Linked DNA regions of Homo sapiens. The protein of the gene in region 1 purifies or fractionates together with the protein of each later gene. This does not show direct contact. Each region holds a gene or a part of one and is shown on either strand. Other genes may lie near its edges.

Evidence for each region. Proteins that work in one complex are often made in the same cells at the same time.
Region 2: the proteins of ARHGAP42 (region 1) and DEK purify together in Homo sapiens (affinity purification with mass spectrometry; one large-scale study listed by BioGRID and IntAct). This does not show direct contact.

What each region holds. Positions count from the first base shown.
Region 1 is NC_000011.10:100,991,288-100,994,441, forward strand, and holds the end of ARHGAP42 (rho GTPase-activating protein 42), read left to right. Parts: 3' UTR 1-2,654; downstream 2,655-3,154. UniProt on the Homo sapiens protein: May influence blood pressure by functioning as a GTPase-activating protein for RHOA in vascular smooth muscle.
Region 2 is NC_000006.12:18,247,531-18,251,030, forward strand, and holds part of DEK (protein DEK), read right to left. Parts: intron 2,310-3,500; coding exon 2,121-2,309; intron 1-2,120. UniProt on the Homo sapiens protein: Involved in chromatin organization.

The DNA.
Region 1 (3,154 bases):
TCAGGACATGTACTCTAAATCACACAGAATGTTAATTCCACAGGAAGGCAATGCCAGACATTGAAAGAGGATCACATTCAACTTTTAATAGTAGTTCAATAACAAAACCTTAGCTTTTCAGGAACAATGTGAAGATACATTAGAATTGCCACATCCATATCTTCAAAACACGCAACCTCTGCACCCTAATAACTGCTTACGGTATAATCAGTATGATGATGAGATTGAGGGGGTCTAAATTTAAGTTCCTTATCTCCTGAGTTATGTGAAAATATCCCTCAGTACAAAACATTTGTGTGTTTCACAGATGACTCTCTTGTTTTGCCGTAATGCTACCAAGTTTATGGAAACTAGTCAACTGAAGGATTTTTCTGTTGTGTTATGTGTAAATGTCTGAACAGTAAAATCATCTGTGTATTCCTGTAACATTCACGAAGTATGAGGAAGTGGGTTTCTCCTTGTTTGATGTGAGTGGTTTTGCTTGTTGCATGGGTTCCCTGTGCTTTGTAACTTGCATGAACACAACCAGGTTTCTCAACAATGATTTGTCTGCTGACTCTTTTCAGAGATAGTGAAGGAAAAAAAATGTATTAAAACCCCAAATTATCTAGGTTTCCAAGTAGGAAAAATAAAGATACATATGACTTTTATTATTATTCGATGATAATTAGCTTTATATAATGTGGCATCCTTCATAAAAATTCACTATGTTGTGAGGCAAACAGATTTCTCACTATCATCCAGTGTACCCTGCTCACCTTCTCACTCCTAGCACCGTTCTTCTGGTCTGTGTTGAAAAGGGTATCATTCATGTGGTTTCAGTTTAGAAGAGTCCCTCAGAGCTTTGCCTCAAGCAATTTCAAATTGTAGTGATACCTTAAATCATGTATTCAGGATGCCTTCTTTAGCATTTAGAACCCCAACTAGACTTATACTTTGACTAAAGTCAGAGGCAGACCAATTTAGGGAACAGATTTTGTTCTTTGCTTTTATGATACATTTGTAACTCACAGCTGTTAGCATGACCTCACATCACTGCGTAGGACCCGGAAATCACATCTCCTGGTCAGGTCACGAAAAAGAACACAGGCTTGACTATTGTCCAGAAGTTACTTTCCCCTTGACTAAAGGTTTCCCCTTAGGGTACACATTGCTATTTAACTTTGCCTCCTACCCTTTTTTGTTACCTTCCAAAATCAAGACACTTTTAAGAAACAAAGATAGTTTTCTGAACATTCTGTGTCCTGCCTGTCTCCTGTTGATTCGCAGATGTAATATCGAGTATTCATCAACTGGTCTCAATTTCCTGAACACATTCACTGTATCCCTCATTGTCACCGTTATCCCCCTGCTTCAAAATGTGCCAGTTCCACTTGGTAATAACGTTGGGAAAATGCAGGTTTATGAATGATGTGGACTTTTAGAGGATCAAATCAATAAATTGGATTTTTTATTTTTTGAGGGCAGCTGCCCTCACTGTTTTAAATAAAGAATCTTACATAAGAATGTTGACAACATTCACAGTAAGCCATTGGCAGAAAATTGATCTGCATGTCCTAGACCAATGATTACAAGGTGTCTGTGGTTTAGGGGGCCCAGCCCATCATTCCTTTTCCCCTTGGCACTCATGAGAGAGATGCCAAGTTCAGTGTGGATTTTTCTTGGTGCTCTATGGAGAAATGGAGTCTGTGTGCTTACTGAAGAGTCCCAAAAACCAGAGACCATTTTCATTTACTGCCATCATAAATATTCTCCACCATTCAAGATGCCTGTGTACACGGCTATTTGGGAAACTTAAGTGTTGGAGGAGGCAGGGGCTGAAGGTGTCAAAACCTCCTCAGTAGGATAACCCCTTTCTCCCCTTTGGACCATCTGCCATCTTTCATGAGTGTTTCCCATGGTGTTTTTGCATCCAGAGTTGACAACAACTCAATTTTGCCTTGAATTTACTCAGTCTTATAAATTAAAAATGTGCATTTTATATAAAGATGCATTTTATATAAAAATGCACACCTTTAATCTCTATATGGCAGCATATACATATATATATATAAAATGCACACTTTTAATCTCTATATGGCAGCATTTTTGAGGCTTTATATCTGCCCGTGTACCCTCAACTGCCTCCTTTTTGCAGAGAACGATCCCCACAGGAACTGGTCTAAGAACACTGTCTGCACATGATTGATGCTTAAAATCCAATATACCACCACATATCAAAGGTTGGGATTTTCAGAGTCCTTCTTGATTTCTGAGCTGAAACCTTAACAAATAGGGAATTTGGCAGGGAAGACACCTGGGTTTTTAATTCAGAACCCTATTTATATACTGTTAAAATTTGAGGTACTGTAGTTTATATAAAAGTCGGATGTTAAGATATTATATTTCAGTACTAGGAGCTTCTTTGCAGTCATTAACATGACAAATTAAGTAATAAATATAAAAGTGATTGTCCATAAATTATCATTGAATTTTTTGTTTATTTTGTAGTGTTCTGTATTTATCTGCACTTTGTGTATATATACACACATACATATGCCAACATGTAAATAACCTCATGTTTATTCCTAATCTAAATTGCCACAATATTTTTAATGTATGGTTACACTGTGTTTTAAATTACTTTAAAAATAAACTTTGTAAGCAGATTTTAATTTAGTCTTTGTACTTGAAGACCCACTGTGTTGGAGGGCAATTGTCTTGGCTTCATGTAGAGAAAAAACAAAGTTTCTGGTACTGTGAGTGATCACTTTGGTATGGCTAAATCATAGCAGAATTTGGTGACCTTCTCCTCACAAATTGGTATTCTGCAAGCTTTGGAAAATGTTAATGTTGATAACCTATTAATAATGCAGGTATCCACCGAGGGGAGAGGGAAATGGGCCATATGCAAAATACTAAATATAACAAGCATACAGGCTTACCTGAAAATATATATGTTTATAAAAGTTTCCAAGTGTACTATGGAAGAAATATCAGCGTACAAATACCTCCTGTCCATTTTTATTAGTCTTATGAACCTCTTGGTCATGACTTGACTTCTAGGTAAAACTTTGCTTCGCTGCATCAAAAAAAAAGATAATCGTGTATTTCTTTTGCATTGCTCCATAGATTATTAGAGTGCAGCAAATCACCTTGCCAAAGCTAAGCCTCA
Region 2 (3,500 bases), on another chromosome or scaffold:
GAGATGGTTCCACTTGTGATTATTATCCTGGAACCAATATGGGTATAAATCAGGTATCATCTGCATACACCAAGTTCAACTACCTCTACAGAACTATGGGACAACAATTTAGAAAGCGAATTTTAAAAGTGAGTATAAAATGCTCTCGTTTTTTTTTTTTGAGACGGAGTTTCGCTCGTTGCTCAGGCTGGAGAACAATGGTGCGATCTCAGCTCACTGCAACCTCTGCCTCCCCGGTTCAAGCAATTCTCCTGCCTCAGCCTTCCCGAGTAGCTGGGATTATCGGCATGCACCACCACGCCCAGCTAATTTTGTATTTTTAGTAGAGGCAGGGTTTCACCATGTTGGTGAGGCTGGTCTCGAACTCCTGACCTCAGGTGATCCACCCACCTCGGCCTCCCAAAGTGCTGGGATTACAGGCATGGGTCACCATGCCCGGCCTGCCCTCACTTTTTAACCTGCACCTAGTAATGACAAGAAGATTCGATTTAGAAGTTTTACTTGTCATAAAACATCATTTTAATTCTAATAATAATAGCAACTAATACTTACATACTATATGCACCAGGCACCGCTCTAAGTATTTTAAATAAAATCCTTTAATATGACCCTATGAGGCTAATACTATTATCACTCCCCATTTTACAGATGGGAAACTGAGGTATAGTTTAAATAACTTGCTTATACTAATACAGTAATAATCCAATATAGAGGTCAGATTTGAACTCAGTTTCCAGAGCCCATGCTAACGTCTCTATGAAAAAATTAGACATTTATATTCTATGATAATGTTTCGTGCTTTAACTCTGCCCATAAAGAGAGTTTAGGAATCTGAATGGCACACAGTAGACACCAAATATTTCCTGAATGAAGATACTATCAGTTTAAAAATTTCCACTGTTATATATATACATACAAACAAACATGTTTTCCTCCCGGATATCCAATCCATAAAGACCTTAATGCTCAGATTACTTATTTTCCTTTGTGCCAAATATATATTAAGATATTTATGAAGCACCTACTAGATTCGTAACCCTCTTTCTTAAATGATGAAGCATTTCATACTTAGCTTTATAGAAGTCTTTATAAAATTTGACGCTAAAACAAGCATGAATTGTAAATAACTCAAGACAAACATACATACTAAACACCCACACATATCATATAATACCAGAGTTCACTATATCTTTATTCCTTCTAATTCAGTGGAGATGATTCCCTCCTTGTCTCGCCCCAGGGACATTTGACAATGTCTGAAGAACATTTTTGGTTGTCACAAGGGGAGCTTGGGAATATCACCCACAATTAAGAATCATCTGGTCCAAAATGTCAAGTTGACATTATCCAAGTCCCTAAATAAGGCAAGGTTGATTACCCAATCTATAGAGCAAGTTCCAACCTTTGAACGAAAACATCAAAGTTAAAATACAGTCTACCAAAACATCATTAACAATAATAGAAACCCATCTCCTGTACCCACTCTCCATGATCTACCTGACTGAAGAGGTTAACCCTCTTATTTAACTGCTTCAGCAGTTCTCTTCTTCATGAAGTTTCACTTTGGAAACTAAGAGTCTCAACTTTTACAAATACTCCCAAATAAAAGAAAATGACAGGTAATACAAAATTTATCCACTCATTATATAAACTTCAAATGCTGTTTATTCTCACTACATAGTCCCCTAAAGGTTGAGGGGGGGAAAAAGGCCCTTAAGTCCCTTGCTTTTTCCGTAAAATAAAATGATCCAAGTCAATTATAAAGTATCAATATATTACGAAAAAAATCCTCGAAGAATCTGCTCCTATGTGGTCCTATTCAGGATATGCACCACTTCCGCTTCCCTTCCCATTTATCTACTCTAGTCTTCAACGTCCAGCTCAAGGCCCACTTCAAATCCAGTCCACACCAACCTCACTCTTTTCTGACTCATACTCTGACATGGTAATGAAACTAAAAGCTCTTTAAGGAAAAGAAATGGGTTCATACTTAATCATTTCTGCATCTTCAGAATTAAAAACAACCAATAAGGAAGTGTTTTCTGGCTGTACCTTATAGCAGAAATATTTAACTCTCCCCATGGAAAGAAATGATTTAAAAATATAGTAAAATATTTTACCTCCTCTTCACTTTCTTTATCTTCATCATCTGAAGACTCTTCCTTGTTTTTCTTTTCATCTTCATCACTACTAGATTCATCTGACAGAATTTCAGGACATTTGGTTCGCTTAGCCTTCCTTGCCATTCCAGAACTGTTCCGTTCCTTTTTACTGCCTTTGCTACAAGTTTTTTTAGATTTCGGCAATGGCTGCATAAAAATTTATAAAGATAACACCAATGAGGTATAATATTTCAATCAATTCTCTTCTTGAAAACTTATCAACTCAATTTCTTATTCCTCTCTCAAGAAATTGTATTTACAAGCCCAGCAGCTTTGCAGAGAATAATCTTTAACCGTGTCAGGTTAACCTAAAACTGTGTTACTAATACCATTTGTGTTCTAAACACCTAGCAAGACCCTTCTCAATTGTAGAGAAATATGTATTCTAGGTTCTGACATGGGACTAGAAGCTCAAGACACATTATGTTAAGCTCCAACGGCTGTTAATACTTTGTCATGATAATATTTTAAGTTAGATTTGTAATTTATTTCATCCCTACAAGCATTAAAACTGTCACTGCCAACCCAGCACTTTGGGACGCCGAGGCGGGCAGATCATGAGGTCAGGAGATCGAGACCATCCTGGCTAACACGGTGAAACCCCGTCTCTACTAAAAATACAAAAAATTAGCCGGGCGTGGTGGCGGGCGCCTGTAGCCCCAGCTACTCGGGAGGCTGAGGCAGGAGAAAGGCGTGAACCCAGGAGGCAGAGTTTGCAGTGAGCCGAGATCGCGCCACTGCAGTCCAGCCTGGGCAACAGTGTGAGACTCCGTCTCAAAAAAACACAAAAAGCAAAAAACAAAAAACTGTCACTGCCAAAGAAGCTCCTTGCTTTAGAAGGCCCAACACTCCAATCGAAGGAATGGGAGAAAAACCTTTTTTTTTTTTTTTTTTTTTTTTTTTTGAGACAGAGTCTCATTCTGTTGTGCAGTAGCTGGGATTACAAGTATGCACCATCACGCCCAGCTAATTTTTGTATTTTTAGTAGAGACAGTGTTTCACCATGTTGGCCAGGCTGGTCTCAAACTCCTGACCTCAAGTGATCCACCCACCCTGGCCTCCCAAAGTCCTGGGATACAGGCATGAGCCACCACGCCTGGCCCATAAAAAAAATGTATAACTTTATTACCAATTATACATCCTGAATTTATGAATGAACTATACGGTTTATATTCATTACTTCTGGCCTCTACTTTCAACAATGTCAGGCTCATATTATCACTGATGCCTATAAGTATACAATAAATGATAAGTATGTTAATTATGAAACTAAGAATATGCTGCTATTATTCTGATAATCAATTAAACCATGTATATTAAAAGCAGAGATCACCTGAT